7 linked regions of the Homo sapiens genome follow. The protein of the gene in region 4 binds, or shares a complex with, the protein of the main gene of each other region. Each region holds a gene or a part of one and is shown on either strand. Other genes may lie near its edges. The genes, in order: PRPF31, SNRNP40, SNRPD3, PPIH, LSM4, PRPF3 and SNRPF.

Region 1 (3,500 bases), on a different chromosome or scaffold from region 4:
AGCAAGGCGCTTCTTTTCTTTAAGAACATGTCACTGCAGCTCACGTTTTACAGACCAGAACTAATTCCCCTGGTCACACCTAGCGGTAAGGACGGCTGAGAAAGGCTGTATGCTGGTGCCCGTGTGCCAGGCCACAAGCCAGGGCTTCAGTTACTAAAGGAAGAAGGGGACATGGGTGTTAGGGCCAACCAGCAGAGTCTACCTTCCATCTCACCCGACAACCTCCTGTCCCGTTTACCCTAGACATCATCCATAAGTTCATCCGGGATAAGTACTCAAAGAGATTCCCTGAACTGGAGTCCTTGGTCCCCAATGCACTGGATTACATCCGCACGGTCAAGGTGAGCGCAGAGAAGGTGGGGTGCTTCTGCTGGCGTGAAGGGGCAGGCGGGGCTCACTCTCGGACCCCCTCCCAGAGGCCTGAGGGTCTGGAGACGATGGAGAGGAGTGGACGAGGGCTCAGTGGTCTGCTCTGCCCAGCGTGGGAGGGACGGAGCCTGGACAGGACTTTCTCAGGGCTCCCCTCCAACCCCAGTCTCCCGAGAGGGCTTCCCCGCTGGCCTGACCCACGCTGCTCCCGCTGTGGTTGGAGCCGGTGGCATTGGAGTTGACATCCGAAGGTTGACACAGGGCAGGCACACGGAGATTTGGGGGAGAGAGACGTCTAAGTGCAGAGAGCTGGAGAGGGAACAAGTGGGGAGGAAGTGAGGCGGGGAAGGAGGGGACGGGGAAGAGGTCGGATCACGTCCAGCCTTTGGGTCTTAGGAGAAAGCCAAGGAAGGGTTTCGGAAAAGAGGGGCAGGTGTGCGTGAGGGCGGGGAGAGGAGGAGGTCCCCACGCATGTCCAGGAAAGGATTAGGATGGCGGTGGGGAAGCCCCTGCAGGGAAGCGAGGCCGCGGATTTGCACTCCGACTTGACGCAGGCCAGAGGCTTGTGAGGCCACAGTCTTTCCAGACGCCACTCTGCCCGGGCTCCGTTTCCAGGTCAGCGAAAGCAGGGCAGATGGTGTGGATGCTTGACGTGGTGGAGGCAGGAATGGTGTGGATGCTTCAGGCGGTGGAGGCAGGAGAGGCCCCCAGTGCAGAGACCCTGACTGTCCCAGTGTCCCTAAGAAGAGACCTGAGGAGGTGCTGAGCAAGAGAGGTTCTCGAGCCTTCCTGAGTTCCCGAGCCTCCCCTATCTTCTCTGCTCGCCCCCAGGAGCTGGGCAACAGCCTGGACAAGTGCAAGAACAATGAGAACCTGCAGCAGATCCTCACCAATGCCACCATCATGGTCGTCAGCGTCACCGCCTCCACCACCCAGGGGTATGTCCGCTTCGAGGGAGGCGCCGGGCCCTAATGGGATTGGGGATTAGGCTGGAGCTACACACGCAGGTGTACACACGCACACACACATACACACATGCACACACACACACAGAACCGAGAGGGCTGGGGCTGGGCACACCAGGCAGGCGGGAGACCCAGGAGGCTGGGCCCACCCGCCCCTGCAGGCAGCAGCTGTCGGAGGAGGAGCTGGAGCGGCTGGAGGAGGCCTGCGACATGGCGCTGGAGCTGAACGCCTCCAAGCACCGCATCTACGAGTATGTGGAGTCCCGGATGTCCTTCATCGCACCCAACCTGTCCATCATTATCGGGGCATCCACGGCCGCCAAGATCATGGGTGAGTCCCCGGGCTGGGTCCCATGGAGCGGGGGTCTGCTGACACTGTGACCTTGGGAAAGCTACATCCTTTTCTGTAGAATGGGGGCTTTGGCACCTGGACCTCAGCACCCCGTCTCCCTGGACATCACAGAGGTCAGCCAGCCTGGCACACAGCAAAGCCTCATCTGTGGGAAAAACACTCACCCACAGCTCCTTCTCCCTCCCCTGTGCCGGAAACCCAGAGATGACCACACCCAGGCCCTGTTGTCAGGGAGCTCCTGGTTTGGTGAAAATGGTTCCAAAACACAGCCATCCCTGGAACGGCGTTAGTGTGGCTTAGCACAAACGTGGTGGTCAGCTTCCTGTTGGGGGCCTCCTCCCTGCACCCCCAGGCCAGCTGCCCTCCCTCTCTGAGCCTCCTTTGCATCTGCCCCTTGCGGAATGGGCCAGGTCGCCCGCCTGGCAGGGCCATCGAGGAATCCAACCAGAACTTCATGTAAAGGTGCCCAGCACACGTCGAGCCCCCAGGCAGATTTACTCACCCCCACCTCTCTGCTTTCTTCTGACCGCCCCCCCTTCCTCCCTCCCTCCCACCGCAGGTGTGGCCGGCGGCCTGACCAACCTCTCCAAGATGCCCGCCTGCAACATCATGCTGCTCGGGGCCCAGCGCAAGACGCTGTCGGGCTTCTCGTCTACCTCAGTGCTGCCCCACACCGGCTACATCTACCACAGTGACATCGTGCAGTCCCTGCCACCGGTGAGCCCACTGCGTCATGGCCCCTCCCCCGGCCCCCCTGGAGCCTTCCGCTGTGCCCAGACAGCCTGAGCAGCCACCCACCATCTGGCCCAGCTGACGGTAGCACTCAGGAGCTGGGAACAGGGTGGCATGGGACGTGAGAGCCAGGGCTCTGCAGCAGACCAGCTCCAGCACCCACCAGTCAGGTGACTGTGGGCAAGAGGCATGAGCGCCCTGTGCCTCAGTCTCCTCCCCTATCAAATGGGAGCACAGCGCCTGCTTCATGAGTTGGGACGAGGGCTCAGTGCACATGAAGCACTTACAGTTCAGGCCTAGCTCACGACAAGCAGCGTCGGGTTAGCGTGCAACTGCTCCGAAGACCACCCTCAGGTTTGACCATTCACTAGAAAGACTCACAGAATCCACTGAGGGCTGCACATCAGCCATGGGGAGAGACACACAGGAGGGGCAGGAGAGGTCACCAACCTCGGAGCTTCCCGGGTCCTCTCCCTGCAGTCGGGACACATCACCATCCCAGCATCGACGCCTGACAGCACACACACAGGCCCGCTAGCCTGGCGGGGCGCAGTGGCTCGTGCCTGTCATCCCAGCACTTTGGGAGGCCGAGGCGGGCAGATCACCTGAGGTCAGGTGTTCGAGACCAGCCTGGCCAACATGGTGAAACCCCATCTCTACCAAAAATACAAAAAACTAGCTGGGTATAGTGGCACACACTTATAATCCCAGCTACTTGGGAGGCTGAGGCAGGAGAATCGCTTGAACCCAGGAGGTGGAGGTTGCAGTGAGCTAAGATCATACCACTGCCCTCCAGCCTGGGTGACAGAGTGAGACTCTGTCTCAAAAAAAAAAAAAAACAAGCAAGACAGGTTCTGGGACAGACAGGCCTGGGTCCAGACCCTGCTCTGTCCAACTGTGGCGAGTTACCTCAGGCTCACGGCCCTGTGCCCTGCCTGGCCTCCCCCAGGGATGGGGAGAACAATAGCACTGATGGCCAAGGCTGGGCAGGCACTTCCTGGCCCCACCCCCCAGCCCTGTGTGGGGTTTTTTTTGTGGTCTTTTCTGCGACCCTTTAGGTCAGGCACTGCTACTGGAACACA
Region 2 (3,500 bases), about 11 Mb from region 4:
GGGCAGGGCAGTACATTGTAGGGAGTAGTCAGAGAGTGAGGAAGGCATCCATACAACACAGGGTAGGTAACCAGTGTGGGGAATTTGAGGGTGAGGGAGGGGCAGCAGCCCAACAGTGCCCTAATGGGGTGAAAGGGTCGCCTGTACGTGAAGCAGTACGGGGAGAATGTGGATGTCAAAGCCTGAACTGAGGGCATCCACACAGGGTAGAAATGATTTGGTGTAGGGAGTCTGAGACTGAGCAAGATGATGACTGCATGCTTGGAGAAGTGCAGACTGGAAAAGAGCCGTAGCAGAGTGATGAGGGTGTTCACACAGAGGAATGACCCAAGTTGGTTAAGGAAGAGTCACACATGGCTTCAACCAAGAATGGGAATCACAATTCAAGTAGGGAAGGGTGGAAGAGAATATGGGAAACTGGTTGCATGCAGGAAGCATAATCAAATAAGTGAATATATTGAATTTAATGGGAGGCTGATTTCTCTGTCCAAGAACAGAGTTACCAGTACAAAAGAGAAGACTAAAATGAATCTTGTGTGAGGTATAAGTGTGAACTCACAATATTCAATATAGAAACATATAGAAAAAAATAGACATAAATGTGTGAGTGTGTGTGTGTGTGTACCTAAATGTACATATATTGCCTGACTGTCCACTGAAAAGGTTTAGGAGCAACAAGACCCCAATAGCAATAGCACCCCTTACTGCACAGGTACTGTTTTCCATTAAAAGGAACCAGGGCTCCTATTTCAGCCCAGGGGCAGTGAAAGTACAAGATAAGCCTTGTACTTGTCAAGGCTTATTTTGTCAAAAGAACATCCTAACTAAATTATCAAATCGACCTAATTAGTAATGGGACAAGACAAAATCATGAACCATTTGCTAGGATACAACAAAGATGCAGCATCATTTCTGTGATATTCCTACCAAAGATGTATAACTTAAATCTAATCAAGAGGAAACATAAGACAAACCTAAATTGGGGATGATGACCTGTAACTTTCAGAAGTGTTGAGTTCATAAAACTCAAGGAAAGTTTGAGAGAGTCTTGCAGACTGGAGTCTAAATTTAACATATGATTCCAGACTGAATCCTTGTGCAATAAGACATTTGGGATAACTGGTAAAACTTGAGTGGGATTTGAGGATAAAATGGTGATAGTGTATCTGTATTTCTTGATTTTGATGGTTATGTTGAGATGATGTAGGAGAACATCTTTGTAGGACAGACACTATTTAGGAGTGATAAGGGGCCAGGTGCAGTGGCTTATGCCTGTAATCCTAGCACTTTGGGAGGCCTAGGCAGGTGGATCACTTGAGGTCGGGAGTTTGAAACCAGCCTGGCCAACTTGAAGAAACCCTGTCTCTACTAAAAATACAAAAAAGCCGGGCATGGTGGCAGATGCCTGTAATACCAGCTACTCAGGAGGCTGAGGAAGAATTGCTTGAACCCGGGAGGTGGAGGTTGCAGTGAGCGGAGATCACGCCACTGCACTCCAGAATGAGCAACAGACAGAGTGAGACTCCCATCTCAAAAAAAAAAAAAAGGTGATAAGGCATTGGGTAAGCAACTTACTCTCAAATGATTTAGACCAAAAAAAGTGTTCTTTTTACTTCCAAGTTTTCTATAAATTTATGATTGCTTCAAAGTAAAATAATTATTAAAAGTGGTAGTTATCTGGAACTAAAATTCTAAATTATTTTAAACAAACTTTGACTACCATGACTTTTAGGAGAAAGACAAAGATAGATTTGACCTGAGTGAAGTATCTATTGAGACAAAGATTATAGTACAGTTTATAAAATATATAGGATCTAAATTATTAAGGCCTTGAATTCCAGGTTAAGAAGTTTGGACTTGATTCTGTAACCACAGGAGTTGGGGGAGTAGGAGATGTTGGGCATGTAGGAGAGGAGTGAAGCGTTCTTTTTAGACCATTTATCTGAGTAATGAACTAATTTTTAGTTCGTATTTACATGAACAAAGAAGAAACTACTTTTCATCCTAAACCATGAGAATTGGGAGGAAGAGGCATCTTGGCACAGATCCTACTCAGACTCTCCTTGTTGACTACAGGATTGAAGTTAAGCCTATGACCTTCCCTAAAGTTCCATGGCTGATTCCTTTCTTTTTGATGCCAGCCCTTTAAAACTTGGAACAGTCATCCCAAAGTCTCTTTCTTCTGAATGAAACGACCCATACTTTTAAATCATTTACTTGTGGTTCATCTTCTCAAGTGTGTCATTCATTTATTGAAACATCTCTGAGCCCTCTCTGTGTTATCCACGCTTTAAAAAAGTAGAGCTATAAGGGTTTGTTTGTTTAAGAGATGGGGTCTTGGCCGGGTGCAGTGGCTCACGCCTGTAATCCCACCACTTTGGGAGGCCAAGGTGGGTGGATCACCTGAGGTCAGGAGTTCGAGACCAGCCTGGCCAACATGGTGAAACCCCCGTCTCTTCTAAAAATAGAAAAATTAGCTGGGCGTGGTGGCGCATGCCTGTAATCCCAGCTATCCAGGAGGCTAAAGCAGGAGAATTGCTGGAACACGGAAGCAGAGGTTGCAGTGAGCCGAGATGCCGCCACTCTCACCCAGGCTGGAGTACAGATCCGCAATCACGGCTCACTGCAGCCTCAACCTCTCTGGCCCAAGCGATCCTCCCATCTCAGCCTCCCAAGTAGCTGGGACTATAGGCATATACCACCACACCCAACTTTTTGTTTTTATTTTGTAGAGATGAGGAATCACCATGTTGCTCAGGCTGGTCGCTAACTCTGGGCTAAAGCCATCCTCCTGGCCTCGGCCTCCGAAAGTGCTGGGGTTACAGGCATGAGCCACCATACCTGGCCCTCTAAGAATTTTATAGTTTTAGCTCTTACATTTAGGTCCTTGATCCATGTTGAATTAATTTTTGTGTATCATGTTAGGCAGGGGCTTACCTTCATTCTTTGGCATGTGGTTAGCCAGTTGTCTTAGCACAATTTGTTGAGAAGACTACTTTTTCCTTCTATATGGACCATAGTTACTTGCTTCTTTGCATGCCTTATATTTTGTTGAAAACTAGGCATTTAAATATTATAGCGTGGTGACTCTGGAAATTAGGTCCCCAGAGCTGCTTATTGTAGTTGTTTGTTTAGTGACTTTCTGTGGGTTGGGGTAAGGTGAGAGTGGTTGGTTGGTTGGTTTTTGAGACGAAGTCTCGCTCTGTAGCCCAGGCTGGAGTGCAGTAGTGCGATCTTGGCTCACTGCAACCTCCACTCCCCGGGTTCAAGTGATTCTTGCACCTCAGCTTCCTGAGTAGCTGGGGTTACAGGGGCACACCACCATGACCAGCTAATTTTTGTATTTTTAGTAGAAACAAGGTTTTACCATGTTAGCCACGCTGGTCTTGAACTCCTGACCTCAAGTGATCCATCCACCTCGGCCTCCCAAAATGCTGGGATTACAGGTGTAAGCCACCATGCCCGGCCTGTTTAGTGAATTTTTGAACTAATTTTGTAAA
Region 3 (3,500 bases), on a different chromosome or scaffold from region 4:
GGATACAACTCAGGCTCACCTGAATCTGACTGACAATTAAAATGTGTTTTGGGGCTGGGCGCGGTGGCTCATGCCTGTAATCCCAGCACTTTGGGAGGCCGAGGTGGGTGGATCACCTGAGACCAGTCTGGCAAACACGGTGAAACCCTGGCTCTACTAAAAATACAAAAATTAGCCGGGTGTGGTGGCAGGTGCCTGTAGTCCCACCTACTCGGGAGGCTGAGGCAGGAGAATCACTTGAACCCGGGAGGTAGAGGTTGCAGTGAGCCAAAATCACGCCACTGTATTCCAGCCTGGGCAACAGAGCAAGACGCCGTCTCAAAAAACAAAAAACAAACCAAACAAACAAAAAACGTGTTTTGGGGACTGTGCCACACTCATGACTCTGTAGAAGACACAAAATAGGCCTAAAGACCTATAGGTGAGATCCAGCTCTGCCATTTGTCAGAAGTGTAACCCTAGGTATATCTCCAGGCTTCCCTGAGCCTCCGTTCCCTCAACTACAAAGCTGAGTTTTGAAAATACAAGACAACAAAGCCAACAGTTACTGAGCACTTATTAGACATCAAGTGCTGGCCCAGGTGATTTCCCCACGGCAGCTCATGTTACCCCACAAAATCCTACAAGGTAAAGAGATGAAGTGACATAGCCATTCAGAGGCAGATCTGTCCCCAGAAACCCATGCCCTTTCCCTCTATTCTCCTGCTTGAGGTCACACCACGCTTACATGGCCTGGCTGGAGTTTGAACCCAGTTCTTTCTAACTCACACTCTTAACCACTGCACATTTCCTGAAATTGTTAAAAAGCAAATCAGGCCAGGTACAGTGGTTCATGTCTGTAATCCCAGCACTTTGGGAGGCCAAGGTGGGAGGACTGCTTGAGGTCAGGAGTTTGAGACCAGCCTGGGAAATGTAACAAGATCCTATCTCTACAAAAATTTTTAACAATTAGCCAGGTGTGGTGGTGCATGCCTGTGGTCCCAGCTACTTGGGAGGCTGAGGTGGGAGGATGGCTGGAGCCCAGGAGTTCAAGGCTGCAGTGAGCTATGATTATGACACTGCATTCCAGCCTGGGCAACAGAGTAAGACCCTGTCAAAAAAAAAAAAAAAAAAATGAACAAGGCAAAGTATGTCTAAATGCTGTCTCTATTGCCTAATACATAATAGAGACTCAGTACATGCTAAATCTGATTGACAGCTAAAATGTGTTTTGGGAGCTGTGCCACTGCTAAGCCACACTCCCTCCAGCACAGGGGCACATCTCACTCCTTTCCTGACAGAAGCTGTTGCATAAGTCCGACAAGACTTAATCTAGGCATTTCCATAAATGAACTATGTCCTGGCTGAAGCAGGAGAGTCCAGTGTCCTCTGACTCCTATTTTAACCCTAACAACCAGGCTCACTACTGCTCTCGCTTTCCCTGTAGCACTGGCTAAGAACAGCTTGCTGTGGACAAAACCCCACAGTCTCACTGCACACATGCCTGCTAGAGCTTGCTAATAAGCCTGACCTGTGTTTGTATCACAAGCCCAAGGCAGCAACTTTTGAGTGAACCAGATCCTAATCAACTCCAGGCAGGAACACCCAGTTTAATCAACTTTCCTCAACAGCCACAATGAAACACATATGGTATAAGCCAGGTACCCAACTGAAATGACATCCTGAGGGGGAGAGAGAGAATCTTTGTAGCACAAAGTGGTGGGACTTTCTTAGATACCTGGGGCCAAGATGGAGAAAGCTAGCTCCAGGACTGTGAAGGTGTGTTGGGGTGTCTCAGGCCTGTCAATACACCAGAAATGCATTCTTTAGGACAATTTCACACATACACAAAGGCAGAGGTGCTTGGATGCCACTGCTATAATACGAATACCAACTAAGGCCATCTACCTATCTTTGTTCTTAGGAAATACAAAAGTATTATGGGGTAGAGGAGCATGATGAATGCAATCCACACACAAACAGTACAGGAAAAAAAAAGTATACGATAAGTTTAAAAAACTGGTTTTCCTTCAACCTAGAGGGCTAGGTGTCTAAAGAAATTCAATTACATTGAATTCAGAGATTTCAAAAACTTTCCTAGCAATAGTTATGGGCAATTTTCTGACCCAATCATGTGAGAGCTTCTTTTGGGTTCTCATTTTTATACAGTGACACAAGACCATATTCCATACAGAGACCAGTTTTCCAAAGATGGCTATTATATGCCAAAGCCAACAAAACAGATTTCAAACAGTCCCATCAGTGATTGGGTGGTCATGTTGAAGCCCCAAAAGCACAATGTCTGCTTGTGCAGAGCTCTACACCACATTCTCCCACCAAAACTTCTAAGAATTAAGTCATTTTGAATGTAGTGAAATGGGTTTGACCATTACTCTCTGTATTTGCTTGTATCATTTATAATTTGGGTCCATTTTTATAAAACTGGGGACATATTTTGGAGTATTGTTATTTTTCTCACTTATGCCAACAGCATTTTGACCAACATGCCATATCCTGCAGCTGATGCCCTATCCTGCAGCACTGGCCACCAGTGCTTGGCTTGCAGCTGTCGGAATGAGAAGGAGAACAAAAGCTCCCTGCCTTCCCAGCTTAACCTCAGATGCACACCCTCTGACCCGATAAGCACCATTTCAGGGACCTCATCCTGAGTTTCACATACACATATTTCCTCTTCTTCCTTTAAAAAAAAAAATATATATATATATACACACACACACACATATATATACATACATATATACATACATACACACATACACACACACACACACACACACACACACACACACACATATATGAGACAGGGTCTCACTGTGTTGCCCAGGGTGGTCCCAAACTCTTGGGATCAAGTGATCCCCCTGGCCCAGCCTCCCAAAGTGCTGGGATTACAGGCATGAGCCAATGTGCCTGGCCATATTTTGCATTTTCAAATGTCAAAAACAGTGCTAAGATAACAGGATACTTTAAAACTACTTGAGGGACCATAAAAGGGTATTTTGTATGGGGATGTTGTCGAGGATATCATCTAATAGTGTCTCCTGTATCTGAGTGCCAGGGAAATCCACACAATTGCTATTTTAACTTAAGAACACTATGCATTTTGGAACTGATGATCTTCCCTGCTTAATCTTACACTGGAATATACCTTTATTCAATGTACAGAGAGATTCAGGTTTACATTTCTGGATACTGACTGCTTGGCTTCATTTTACATTCTACCCCAGCTTACCTGCACCATGATCTATGCATCTACTTTTATCCTGCCATAGAATTTTTTTAATTTTAGAGATAGGGTCTTGCTCTGTCACCCAGGCTGGAGTGCAGTGGTGCGACCAGAGCTTAATGCAGCCTGAACTGCTGGGTGGGCTCAAGTGATCCTTTTTGCCTCAGCCTATGGAGTAGCTGGGACTACAGGCATAAGCCATCACATCCAGATAATATATTTTTTATTTTTGGAGATGGAGTCTTGCTCTGTCGCCCAGGCTGGAGTGCAGTGGCGC
Region 4 (3,500 bases):
CCACAGTGGAGAGATGAACCAAGTGCTGTGGGAGCACCCACTGTCTGGGCTTAGACCTGGAAGAGGAGGTGGAGGGATCAGCAATGGATTCACACCTGATGTTAGCCACAGCTGTGGGCAGGCTCCTGGGAAGTGCTGGGAGGATTTAGGATTAGTTAACACTACATATAAACAGTATGTATTTCTATTACAAGATACATGTTCAAGGTAGAAAATTCAAGCTTAAATAAGGCAACTGAAAAGTCTCTTTGCTATCTCTACTCTGCAGAAGTATTATCCACAGTCTGCTATATATCACTGCAGAGATTCCTGAAAGTCATTCAAAATAAACAGTAACATGCTTACATAAATTACTACATCTTGACTGTCACTTAACTTACCTTAGAAATCTTGCCAACACATCCAGATCTACCTCTTTATTTTGTTAAGGCTGTATAGTATTCCACTGAAGAGAATGGAACCTCTACGTGTGTAAGACTTGGCTGCAATGCAAGCAGCTTTGCCTTTGTACTGGACTGGAATGGACTGGAGCCAGACATTCTCTCCACTCCTGGCCTTTTCAGCTGGCAGAGCTTCTGAGTTTCAGGACAGGGAACATACAGTGTCACATGCCCAGCAGGCACATAAATATTTGCTGCCAAATCTCCAGTGTTCCCCAGACCCATATTTTCATGTAAAACCTCTTTTCTCTTGCCTGGACTACTACTGCAGTAGACTCCTCACTGGCCTCCAGCCCATCCTCCACAATGCTGCTAGAATCATCTTCTGAACATGAAAATTCATCTACAGTATTCTGCTGAAAATCCTTAAGTGGTTCATATTGGCCTGATTCTTTTTTGGAGGGTCAGTGCCCCTTTTGAGAATCTCAGGAGCACAGTGGACTCCTTCCCCAAAAGGGAAAAATTACTTCATGCCTGAAAGTCAGCCTCTGCCCTCAGAATAACATATGAACTGCTAAACTTGGCACTGGCTTTCACTACTGGCCCTGGCCTCTCTCCAACCTTCTCACCATTTGCTTTTCATATCTTCCTGCTTCAGTCATATTGAATTATTTGCAGCTTCCTCTACACTTCCTGCTGTTTCCTGCCTTTGTGACTTTGCATAGGCTGTTCCCTCTGCCTGGAATGCCCTGCCCAGTTTTAGCCACCTGACAAGTTATATTCTTTCTTGTACTAAACTGAAGCATCATCTCTTCTGTAGTCTACTCAACCACTCTGGGAAGATCCGGGCATTTATGCTTTCCTCACCTTGTTCTAAAACCTCCAATACAGGGCTTTATTGTACTGTAATTGTCAGTTCTCCCAAGAGACTGAGTTCCTTGAAGGATGGAACTGACTTTTCAAATCTGTAGCCTCATATGCAGCATGGGAACTATCTTAATTCATCAGCGCTTAGTTGTGGAATGAATAGAGGACCAGCCCAACTGCCACCAACACATATTTCCTAATCTTCCCCTACGGGAATGTCTCGCATCTATAGGTAATTCTAGAATGAAACACAGTGTTTCCTAAACCTTAGTCATTCAAATAGCATCTTCACAACTGTTACAATATCTATCATCCACAGGTACAATTTATTTTTTAAGCTAATCACTATTTGAACTTCAATATTGCCTCACTATAAGCTGTAATAACTGTAAAATGATGTATTGTGCTAATTCCGTATTTTTTCCTAAGATCCAAATATTAAAATAAAAGACAGTCATCCCACCACTAACTAAAGTAGTGTTTCCCACACTTCTCTATTAAGAAGCATGTGAGATACTTGTTACAAACATAACATCCTGGTCCCACCCCAAAGCCACTCAATCAAATACTCCAGGGAAGGGATCTAGGAATTCGTAGGTTTAACGAGTGCCCCAAAATGATTATTACCTGTTGGAGAATCTAGGCAACAATGAATTAAGGAAAGCTCTCTACCATTTGGTACTGGTACCAGGTTTGAGGATCACAGGGAAGAGGGTAAGCATATCAGACTAGCAGAGCTGCCAGAACTCGGGCTTTCAAAAGAGAGGTGCCACCCTCTCCCATGTCCATGTAAGTAGCAAACAACCCATTCAGACTACAGCAGGAGAATCCTGAGTGTAGAGGTTCATTTATGCTATACATAACCAAATTCATCATAAAAAGTTTTCCAAGGGCTGGGCACGGTGGTTCATGCCTGTAATTCCAGCACTTTGGGAGGCTGAGGTGGGAAGATCGCTTGAAGCCAGGAGTTTGAGACCGGCCTGGACAACATGGTGAAACCCCATCTCTAAAAAGTTAGCTGGGTGTGGTGCTGCACGCCTATAATCCCACCTACTAAGGAGGCTGAGGTGGGAGGAACACTTGAGCCAGGGAGGTCGAGGCTGCAGTGAGCTGTGACTGCGCCACTGCACTCCAGCCTGGGTGACAGAGTAAGACCCTGTCTAAAAAAAAAAACTCTCCCAGAACTCACTGAGATAAAACCAAGGTTTCTATAACTAAAGTTGTACAGACCAGGCATGGTGGCTCACGCCTGTAATCCCAGTACTTTGGGAAGTCAAGGCGGGCAGATCACATGAGATCAGGAGTTTGAGACGAGCCTGGCTAACTTGGTGAAACCCTGTCTCTACTAAAAATACAAAAAAATTAGCCAGACGTGGTGGAGCATGCCTGTGATCCCTGCTATTCGGGAGGCTGAGGCATGAGAATCGCTTGAACCTGGGAGGCGGAGGTTGCAGTGAGCTGAGATCGTGCCACTGCACTCCAGCCTGGGCAACGGAGTGAGATTCTGTCTTAAAAAAAAAAAAAATTGTACACAAAACTTCATTTTCACTAAAACCAAAGTCAGAACCTAGGAAGGCAAAACACAAAGGTTCTGGAAAGAAGTGCTCCATAGGGAGGTAGAATTGATCAAGTGACCCGTCTTCTATCTCCTTCTTAGCTGTTTCACTGCATATGTCCAGTGCCTGGGCACAAGGCCTCAAATGCAGGATTAGGTGATACCTTGATGTGAATGCAATGGATTCCTGCTGGACTAGTGCCACCAAGAGAGTACTTCCTCTTGGTCTTTTTTTTTTTGGAATATGGCAAGTTCTCAATTAAAAGATAGACTCTTATCCCCTATTGACTTGCCTCACAGTCTGCATCAGCATCACCTGAGAGCTGATTAGAAATGCAAAATCTCAGTCCCCATCCAAACCCACTGAGTCAGAACCACTATTTTATAACAAATCTCCTGGAGATCCGTATGAACGTTAAAGTATAAGAAATACTGCCCGGCCAGGCATGGTGGCTTATGCCTGTAATCCCAGCACTTTGGGAGTCCGAGGCGGATGGATCATGAGGTCAGGAGTTTGAGACCAGCCTGGCCAAGATGGTGAAACCCTGTCTCTACTAAAAAATACAAAAATTAGCTGGGTGCGGTGGTGGGCACCTGTAATCCCAGCTACTCGGGAGGCTGAGGCAGGAGAATTGCTTGAACCTGGGAGGCAGAGTCTGCAGTGAGCCGAGATCGCGCCACTGCACTCTAGCCTGGGC
Region 5 (3,500 bases), on a different chromosome or scaffold from region 4:
GGCATGGTGGTGCATGCCTGTAGTCCCAGCTACTCGGGAGCCTGAGGCAGGAGAACTGTTTGAACCCAGGAGGCGGAGGTTGCAGTGAGTTGAGATAGGGGGAGGTTGCAGTGAGCTGAGATCGCACCACTGCACTCCAGCCTGAGCAACAGAGTGCCACTTGGTCTTAAAAAAACAAAAAACTAAGAAACACAGAAATGTTTAAAGGAATAAGTGAGACAATGGTGATGGTGGCCACTGATCCAGGGTGGCTGGGGGCCAGGTGGGCACAGCTGGGCTGGTCCTGGCAGGCACCCCCACAACACCAGATATTTGGGCTTCAGTGTTCCACAAATGCTGTTTTTTACTGCAATAATTACTCATCTATTTTGGTATGTTTTGAGAACAAAGATAAGTAGCAGATCATTCTGAGGATATGCTGCTGTTAGGAAAAGACTGATATTTTTTGGTGTCTTTTATGAGACAGGGTCTTGCTCTGTTGCCCAGGCTGGAGTGCAGTATCGTGATCATGGCTCACTACAGCCTCAACCTCCTGGGCTCAAGCCATCCTCCCACCTCAGTTTCCCTAGTAGCTGAGACTATAAGCGCACACTACCACATGTGGTTAATTTCTTTTCCTTTTGTAGAAGTGGGGTCTCACTGTTGCCCAGACTGGTCCCAAACTCCTGGGCTCAAGTGATCCTCCTGTCTTGGCCTCCCGGGGTGCTGGGATTATAGGCATTAGCCACCACACTCAGTCCAAGCCTGAGATTTTCTTTTGAGATGGAAGTTTCTCTGTTGTTGCTCAGACTGGAGTGCAATGGTGTGATCTCAGCTCACTGCAACTTCTGCCTCCCGGGTTCAAGTGATTCTCCTGCCTCAACCTCCCAAGTAGCTGGGATTACAGGCGCCTGCCATCACGCCCAGCTAATTTTTTAGTAGAGACGGGGATTTCACCATGTTGGCCAGGCTGGTCTTGAACTCCTGACCTCAGGTGATCCACCCGCCTTGGCCTCCCACCAGGGCTGAGATTTTTAAATGACTCAACTTAGGCATCTGCCCAAGAGAAATGAACACAGGCAACCATACAAAAATGTGTGCGTGAATGTTCACAGTGACACTGTTCGCAATAGCCAAAAAGGGGAAAGAGCCCAGATGCCTATCAGCAGACAAACACATAAACAAAATGTAGGCCGGGCGTGAGCCTGTAATCCCAGCACTTTGGGAGGCCGAGGCGGGCGGATCACGAGGTCATGAGATCGAGACCATCCTGGCTAACACAGTGAAACCCCGTCTCTACTAAAAAAAAAATACAAAAAAAATTAGCCAGGCGTGGTGGCGTGTACCTGTAGTCCCAGCTCCTCAGGAGGCTGAGGCAGGAAAATGGCGTGAAACCAGGAGGCGGAGCTTGCAGTGAGCCCAGATCACTCCAGGCTGGGCGACAGAGCTAGACTCCCTCTCAAAAAAAAAAAAGTGGTAAGTATCCGCTCCACGGAGTATCGTCTGGCTATAAGGAATGAGGCACTGACACAGGCCACAGGGTGGATGAACCTCAAAAACACGTTGCTGAGTGACAACCACCAGGCTCGAAAGGCCTCATGGTCTCCGTTCGCATGCATGGGAAATATCCGGAATAGGCAACCCCACAGAGACGGCAGCTGCCTCATGCTCATCAGGGACTGGGGCTGGGAAGTGACTGCTGATGGAAATGGGCTTTCCTTTTGTGGAGACGGAAATGTTCCGGCCTAGATAAAGGTGGTGGTTACACAACCTGTGACTGCACCAAATGCCACTAAATTGTGCACTTTAACTGAAGTGTTAGTATGTAATATTATCCTTTTTTTTTTGAGATGGAGTCTCGCTCTGTCACCCAGGCTGGAGTGCAGTGGCGCGATCTCAGCTCACTGCAAGCTCCGCCTCCCGGGTTCACGCCATTCTCCTGCCTCTGCCTTCCAAGTAGCTGGGACTGCAGGTGCCCGCCATCACGCCCGGCTAATTTTTTTGTATTTTTAGTAGAGACGGGGTTTCACCGTGTTAGCCAGGATGGTCTCGATCTCCTGATCTGCCCGCCTCGGCCTCCCAAAGTGCTGGGATTACAGGCATAGAGCCACCACGCCCGGCCAATATTATCATTTTTTGGAGACAGGGTTTCACTGTCACCCAGCGACCTGCAACCTCAAACGCCTCAGGCTCAGGTGATCCTCCTGCCTTAGGCTCCCAACTAACTGGAACTACAGGTGCACGCCACTACACCCAGCTAATTTTTATATTTTATGGAGAGACGTGGTTTCTCCATGTTGCCTAGACTGGTCTCTGAACTCCTGGGCTGAAGCCATCCTCTAGCCTCAGCCTCCCAAAGTGCTGGAATTATAGGCCTGAGCCACCATGCCCAACCTGAAGTTCTTTTTATTTTTTTAAGTGACAGGGTCTTGCTATATTGCCCAGGTTGGATTTGAACTCCTGGGCTCAAGTGATCCTTCCACCTCATTAATTTTCTTTTTCTAGAGACAAGGTTTCACTCTGTCGCTCAGACTGGAGCGCAGTGGTATGATCATAGCTCACTGCAGCCTCAAACTCCTGGGATCAGTCGATCCTCTTGCCTCAGTCTCCTGAGTAGCTGTGACTATAGGCACACACCACCTCATCTGGCTAATTTTAAGTTTTTCTTCTTGCCCAGGCTGATCTCGAACTCCTGAGCTCAAGCGATCCTCCTGTCTTGGCCTCCCAAAGTGCTGGGATTACAGGCGCGAGCCACTGCAACTGGCCCATTAAATTTTTAGTAAGTATGTATGTATTACTCTTACAAGCAGCAGAAATGACAGGAGTGTGGACACTCCTGGGGAGGGAGAAGAGAGCAAACTGCCATGCTGGTGGACAGGCAGGCCAGGAAGCCGTCTGCTCAGCCACCGCCCCTGTGCTGAGGCTGGCCCCCTCTCAAACAGGCTTTCCCAGACCACTGAGTACTCACCATGGGGTGATTCTGAGCCGTCTTCAGCAGTGACAAGGGAAGCTGAAAGGCAAATAAAGCCACATGATTTGTCTGTTTGACCAGCGCCTGGGAGCTCTGGTCTTGAGTCCCACCCATGACTCATAGATGGTGCGGTGCGGTTGAGGGGGCACAGGAGTGCGTGTCAATCACCCCCCACTGGAAATGCCATTTCCTCACTCTGCCCAGCCCTGGAACACACACCTGCCTCTCAGATTAGGAAGAAAAGCCTCACACACCCTCCCTACTCCCGTAGGTGGCCACCACCTGCTCTTGGTGCTGAACACTCTGGTCAATTTTTTTTTTTTTTTTTTTTTTGAGACGGAGTCTCGCTCTGTCACCCAGGCTGGAGTGCAGTGGCATGATCATGGCTCACTGCAACCTCCACCTCCCGTGTTCAAGCCTCACAAGCAGCTTGCCTCAGCCTCCCAAGCAGCTGGGGACAACAGGCATGCGTCACCACACCCAGCAAATTTTTGTATTTTTAATAAAGGCGGGGTTTCACCATGTTGGCCAGGCTAGTCGCAAACTCCAG
Region 6 (3,500 bases), about 110 Mb from region 4:
TACCTGGCAAATGTAGAAAACAAAATTAGGGCCAGGTGCGGTGGCTCACGCCGGTAAACCCAGCACTTTGGGAAGCCTAGGTGGGCAGATCACTTGAGGTCAGGAGTTCAAGACAAGCATGACCAACATGGCAAAACCCTGTCTCTACTAAAAGTTCAAAAACTAGCCAGGTGTGGTGGCAGGCACCTATAATCCAAGCTACTCCGGAGGCTAAGGCCGGAGAATAGCTTCAACCCAGGGGGGTGAAAGTTGCAGTGAACGGAGATAGTGCCATTGCACTCCAGCCTGGGTGACAAAAGCGAAACTCCAACTCAAAAAAAAAAAAAAGGCCGGGCGCGGTGGCTCACACCTATAATCCCAGCACTTTGGGAGGCCAAGGCTGGCAGATCACCTGAGGTCAGGAGTTCAAGACCAGCCTGACCAAACATGGTGAAACCCTGTCTCTACTAAAAATACAAAATTAGCTGGGCGTGGTGGCACATGCCTGTAATCCCAGCTACTCAGGAGGCTGAGGCAGGAGAATTGCTTGAACCCAGGAGGCAGAGGTTGTGGTGAGCTGAGATCATGCCGTTGCACTGCAGCCTGGACCACAAGAGCGAAACTCCTCCTCAAAAAAAAAAAAAAAAAAAAAATAGAAGCAACTTTGTTTCCCAGTTTCAACTTTGGGAAACTAACAAAAAGCCCTTTGGAATTAGCATCCCTCACAGTGGGTAGTGGAGCATATCGCATCTAATAACACACCAACCCAAGAGTTTGGCTCTTGCATTTGCATTTAGCTGTGGATGCCACAACAACATGTGGTTCTATAAAAGGAGCAAGCTGAGGGCTCTTTCCTAGGAACAACCAGGGAACTGTAAATGTAAAGCTTCATGAAATTTTGGGTTTTTTTCTTTCTTTCTTTCTTCTTTTTTTTTTTTTTTTTTTTTTGAGACAAGGTCTGGCAGTATCATCCAGGCTGGAGTGCAGCAGCACCATCTCAGCTCACTGCAACTTCCACCTCCCAGGCTCAAGCCATCCTCCACACCTCAGCCTCCCAAGAGGCTGGGACTACAGATGCACACCACCATGCCCGGCTGATTTTTTATTTTTTGTAGAGATGGGGTTTTGCCATGTTGCCTAGATCTCGAACTCCTGAGCTCAAGCAATCTGCCCACCTCAGCCTCCCAAAGTGCAGTGATTACAGGCATAAGCCACCATACCCAGCCAAATTTTTTTTCCTTGAGATGGGTCTCACTGTGTTGCCCAGACTGGTCTTGAATTCTTGGCCTCAAGCAATCCTCCTGCCTTGGCCTCCGAAAGTGTTTGGATTAGAGGCATGAGCCACCATGCTTGGCTGTCTCATGAAATTCTAAGCACAGGAATATGCACTTAAAATGTATGTTCACTGGTCAAACAACAAACTATTGTCAGGAAAAAAACTGAATTAAAAAAAAGAATTACACATGGGTAGTGGCTATTGTATTGAACAGCATAGATACAGAACATGTTCCTCACTGTATAAATTTCCAATGGGTAATGCTGCTCTAGAGACTTGATTCAGGAATCTATACATTACCTGGAGGATTGAGCTGGGCTGGATGTTCAACAAGATTTGTGATTCCAAAATAATCTTCTCTCTTGGGATTTTCCTCTGTACTAAAATTGTAGGAAGAAAAGAAAACACGATATGCGGGTAGAGATGATTCTAAGAGAGGAGTCTCAGAAATACAATGAAAAAACCCACTCTCTATAATGGGTTCTTGTGCTTGATATACCTAAAATAGCATTTAGGTACCTAAAATATATAGTTAAATTACACATAATTTTCATGATGAGAAAACTGAGTCCCTCTATGGTTGAACACACTCTCCACAGCAATCATTCTCAACCTTTTTTCTACCATGCCACAGCTGACAGACGCTATGTTCTCTCATTAGTGACAATAAGTCCCTGGAACAGTGGCTGACAAAGAAGGGGCAACGAAAGGCTAAGACAAAATCTACTAAAGCCATGTATCAGAATGATGGAGCAGGGCCAGGTGATGTGGCTTATGCCTATAATCCCAGCACTTTGGGAGATGAAGGCAGGTGGATCACCTGAGGTCAGGAGTTTGAGACCAGTTTGGCCAAATAGTGAAACTCTTGTCTACTAAAAATATAAAAACTGGCCAGGTGTGGTGGTATTTGCCTGTAGTCCCGGATACTTATGAGGCTGAGCTAGAAGAACTGCTTCAACCCAGGAGACAGAGGTTGCAGCGAGCCGAGATTGTGCAACAGAGTGAGACTCTGTCTTAAAAAAAAAAAAAAAAAAAAAAAACGCCAGGCGTGGTGGCTCATGCCTGTAATCCCAGCCCTTTGGGAGGCTGAGGCGGGTGGATCACCTGAGGTCGGGAATTTGGGACCAGCCTGACCAACATGGAGAAACCTCGTCTCTACTAAAAACACCAAAAATTAGCCAGGCGTGGTGGTGCATGCCTATAATCTCAGCTACTTGGGAGGCTGAGGCAGGAGAATCACTTGAACCCAGGAGGCGGAGGCTGTGGTGAACCAAGATTGCTCCACTGCACTCCAGCCTGGGCAACAAGAGCGAAACTCCGTCTCAGGAAAAAAAAAAAAAAAATGGATGGAGCAGATATATTTAAAGCTCTTCAAATGTGTCTTATATCCTTTTTTTTTTTGAGACAGAGTTTCACCCTGTTGTCCAGGATAGAGTGCAGTGGTCATGATCATAGCTGACTGCAGCACAGACCCTCCTGGGCTCAAGTGATTCTCTCACATCAGCCTCCTGGGTAGCCAGGACTACAGGCACAAGCCACCATGCCCAGCTACTTTTTTTTTTTTTTTAATCTTTGTAGAAACGAGGTCTCACCATATTGCCCAAGCTGGTCTTTAACTCCTGGGCTCAAGCAATCCTTCAGCCCTCAGCCTCCCAAAGTGCTGGAATAACAGGTGTCAGCCACCGAGCCCAGCCTTATATGCTATATTTACTATTATCTCACCTACCAACTAATAATCCTTGCTCTATCACAATGAGATCTTTAGGAAATGTAAACACCTATAATACGTAGCAAAAGAATGTAATTAAGGAAAATAATGCTAAAAACAGGCAACAATGTGTAACAGAGCAAAAAGAATTCTAGACTTTGCTTTTGTAGATTGTGTCCCTGGTTATCCTACATTAACCCCAAAAGCTAAAAACAGCCTATATATATGATACATCACTTACAAATGCAGGAGCTTGGCCAGGTGCAGTGGCTCACGCCTGTAATCCCAGCACTTTGGGAGGCTAAGGTGGGCGGATCACCTGAGGTCAGGAGTTCGAGACCAGCCTGGCCAACATGGCAAAACCCTGTCTCTATCAAAAATACAAAAAGCAGATGGGCATGGTGGCACACACCTGTAGTCCCAGCTACTTGAGGGGCTGAGATTCAAGGAGAATTCAAGGAGAATCTCTTGAACCCGGGAGGTGGAGGTTGCAGTGAGCTGAGATCGTGCCACTGCACTCCAGCCTGGGTGACAGAG
Region 7 (2,344 bases), on a different chromosome or scaffold from region 4:
GAGGTTTCCTTCACAATTAGGCACGTGGAAAAGGAAAAGAAAAATAGGGCTTAACAATAAGGATTAAAATAGGATGTTTCATAAGGCATGAAAAACATGGTAATGAACACTACTACTGGATGTTACTCCCTTTCTTATAGACAACAAAAAGTAATCTCCATTATCCAGATGATATAGTTTTGTCTGAAATATACGAGGTTGTTGAGACAGTTTGTATGTAACAGCTATAAGAAATAATGTATTAAGAGCAACTAATTTTTTGTAAAAAGTAATTACAACATTTAACATTTCTAAATTACACAATAATGTTCCAAATACTTTCTATCATGTTCTTCACCATCACTTAACAGGCTCTCTATGGCCGCCATTTTAACCTAACTTTCTGTCATTCGTCCCTTAACTCAATCTGCTCTGGCCTTTTTGCTGTGCCTTGAACACACCAAGCATGCTTCTGCCACAGGGCCTTTGTACTTGCTGTTCCCTCAAACTGGGATGCTTTTCCCCAGATACTCAACTGAGTTGTACACTAATTCTGGTATCTTCCAGAATTCGCCTCCTCAGAGAGGCTACTCTATATAATATTGCACATACTGTCTTCCCCCTTTTCTTCATGGATGGCATCTATCATGCCTATTATCACATTATATTACCACCTCCCACCACTAAACCATAAACTGTTGAGGGCAGGGACTTTGTTTTGTTCAATGCTATATTCACAGTGCCAGGCACATAATGGAATTCAATAAATATTTGCTGAGTGAACAAATTCAAACACTGGTATCAATATGGTTGACTACTCAAAGTGGTTGGTTACTCAGACATTTTGCAACTCTAGCAGGGTCACTAGCAAGCTATATTAATTCTAAAACAAATATTAAGTGGTAATTCTTTTATTATTGAGATGTTAATTTCCATAGCATAAAATTCACCCTTTTAAAGTGTACAATTCAGTGGTTTTCAGTATATTCAAAAACCTGTGCAACTATCACCACTACTTCCAGAATATTTTCATCACAATTCATATACTTCCCAGATTTTTCTATGGTCTTGGTAAATGACTCCTGTTTAAGGAATTTTCCACACTCAAACTATGCTTTGGGGGCCTTAATGTCATGTGCTCAGGTGGTAATTGCCTAAGTTAAGGAAAATCATAGCTCTCTGCCTACTTAAGTACTCCTTTTAGTACTCTGCTTACAAGTATGGAATCCTTGGATTCATGATTGGATTGACCACCTGTCTTGATAGCCTTTAAAAACCTGCCTGGAAACTACTACCATTAAAAAAACAACAAAAAATCCCAAACTAATTTTTTAAATGTGCAAAAGACATGAACAGGCATTTCTCCAAAGATAAACAAATGGCCAATAAACACATGAAAAGGTGCTCAACATCATTAGCCAAATGCAAATCAAAACCACAATAAGATACCACTTCACACCCATTAGAATAACTATTTTATAAACACCCATAGAAAATAACAAGTGTTGGTGAGGATGTGGAGAAACTGGAACCGTTGTGCATTGCTGGTGGGTATGTAAAACCACGTAGCTGCTGTGGAAAATAGTGTGACAGTTACTCAAAAGAAAAAAAAAAATTTCTCTGTCATCCAGGCTAGAGTGCAGTGATCACAGCTCACTGCAGCTTCAACCTCCCCAGGCTCAGGTAATCCTCCCAACTCAGCTTCCTGAGTAGCTGGGAATATAGCTGCCCACACCATCATGCCTAGCTAGTTTTTGTATTTTTTTTGTAGAGATGCAGTTTCACTATGTTGCCCAGGCTGGTCTCAAACTCCTGGGCTCAAGCAATCTGCTGCCTCAGCCTCCCAAAGTGCTGGGATTACAGGCATGAGCCACCACGCTTGGCCTCCTTAAAAAATTAAACATAGAATTACCAGTAATCCAGTAATTCCACTTCTGGGTATATACCCCAAAGAGCTGAAAGCAGTGACTGGAACAGACATTCGTATACCCATGTTCACAGCAGCATTATTTACTACAGTCCAAAGAGGGAAGCAACCCAGTGTCCACCAAGAGGCAAATGGATTAGAATGTGGTATATCCATATAATGGAATATTATTCAGTCATAAAAAGGAAATTCTGACACATGCTACAACATGGATGAACCTTGAATAATACACTACGTTAAGTCAAACAAGCCAGACACAAAAGGATAATACACAATTCCACTTACATGAGGTATTATGCACGGTCAAATTCATAGACATGTAGACTAGTGGTTACCAGGGGTTAGTTAGGTGGAGGAAGGAATGGAAAATTATTGTTTAATGTTTAATTGTAAAATTATTGTTTAATGGAAAATTATTGTTTAATGGGCAAAAAATTT

The links.
Region 1: PPIH (region 4) and PRPF31 share a complex: the UniProt entries of both Homo sapiens proteins name them as parts of the U4/U6-U5 tri-snRNP complex.
Region 2: PPIH (region 4) and SNRNP40 share a complex: the UniProt entries of both Homo sapiens proteins name them as parts of the U4/U6-U5 tri-snRNP complex.
Region 3: PPIH (region 4) and SNRPD3 share a complex: the UniProt entries of both Homo sapiens proteins name them as parts of the U4/U6-U5 tri-snRNP complex.
Region 5: PPIH (region 4) and LSM4 share a complex: the UniProt entries of both Homo sapiens proteins name them as parts of the U4/U6-U5 tri-snRNP complex.
Region 6: PPIH (region 4) and PRPF3 share a complex: the UniProt entries of both Homo sapiens proteins name them as parts of the U4/U6-U5 tri-snRNP complex.
Region 7: PPIH (region 4) and SNRPF share a complex: the UniProt entries of both Homo sapiens proteins name them as parts of the U4/U6-U5 tri-snRNP complex.

Annotation. Positions count from the first base shown.
Region 1 is NC_000019.10:54,122,254-54,125,753, forward strand, and holds part of PRPF31 (U4/U6 small nuclear ribonucleoprotein Prp31), read left to right. Parts: exon of another isoform or gene 1-153; intron 154-238; exon of another isoform or gene 239-243; coding exon 244-341; exon of another isoform or gene 342-389; intron 390-1,200; coding exon 1,201-1,307; intron 1,308-1,495; coding exon 1,496-1,665; intron 1,666-2,245; coding exon 2,246-2,403; intron 2,404-3,500. UniProt on the Homo sapiens protein: Involved in pre-mRNA splicing as component of the spliceosome. Required for the assembly of the U4/U5/U6 tri-snRNP complex, one of the building blocks of the spliceosome.
Region 2 is NC_000001.11:31,283,289-31,286,788, reverse strand, and holds part of SNRNP40 (U5 small nuclear ribonucleoprotein 40 kDa protein), read left to right. Parts: intron 1-3,500. UniProt on the Homo sapiens protein: Required for pre-mRNA splicing as component of the activated spliceosome. Component of the U5 small nuclear ribonucleoprotein (snRNP) complex and the U4/U6-U5 tri-snRNP complex, building blocks of the spliceosome.
Region 3 is NC_000022.11:24,562,499-24,565,998, reverse strand, and holds part of SNRPD3 (small nuclear ribonucleoprotein Sm D3), read right to left. Parts: intron 1-3,500. UniProt on the Homo sapiens protein: Plays a role in pre-mRNA splicing as a core component of the spliceosomal U1, U2, U4 and U5 small nuclear ribonucleoproteins (snRNPs), the building blocks of the spliceosome.
Region 4 is NC_000001.11:42,671,923-42,675,422, reverse strand, and holds part of PPIH (peptidyl-prolyl cis-trans isomerase H), read right to left. Parts: intron 136-3,500; exon of another isoform or gene 1-135. UniProt on the Homo sapiens protein: PPIase that catalyzes the cis-trans isomerization of proline imidic peptide bonds in oligopeptides and may therefore assist protein folding. Participates in pre-mRNA splicing.
Region 5 is NC_000019.10:18,313,077-18,316,576, forward strand, and holds part of LSM4 (U6 snRNA-associated Sm-like protein LSm4), read right to left. Parts: exon of another isoform or gene 2,990-3,500; coding exon 2,948-2,989; exon of another isoform or gene 2,593-2,947; intron 1-2,592. UniProt on the Homo sapiens protein: Plays a role in pre-mRNA splicing as component of the U4/U6-U5 tri-snRNP complex that is involved in spliceosome assembly, and as component of the precatalytic spliceosome (spliceosome B complex).
Region 6 is NC_000001.11:150,338,533-150,342,032, reverse strand, and holds part of PRPF3 (U4/U6 small nuclear ribonucleoprotein Prp3), read right to left. Parts: intron 1,636-3,500; coding exon 1,556-1,635; intron 4-1,555; coding exon of another isoform or gene 1-3. UniProt on the Homo sapiens protein: Plays a role in pre-mRNA splicing as component of the U4/U6-U5 tri-snRNP complex that is involved in spliceosome assembly, and as component of the precatalytic spliceosome (spliceosome B complex).
Region 7 is NC_000012.12:95,861,952-95,864,295, reverse strand, and holds part of SNRPF (small nuclear ribonucleoprotein F), read right to left. Parts: intron 1-2,344. UniProt on the Homo sapiens protein: Plays a role in pre-mRNA splicing as a core component of the spliceosomal U1, U2, U4 and U5 small nuclear ribonucleoproteins (snRNPs), the building blocks of the spliceosome.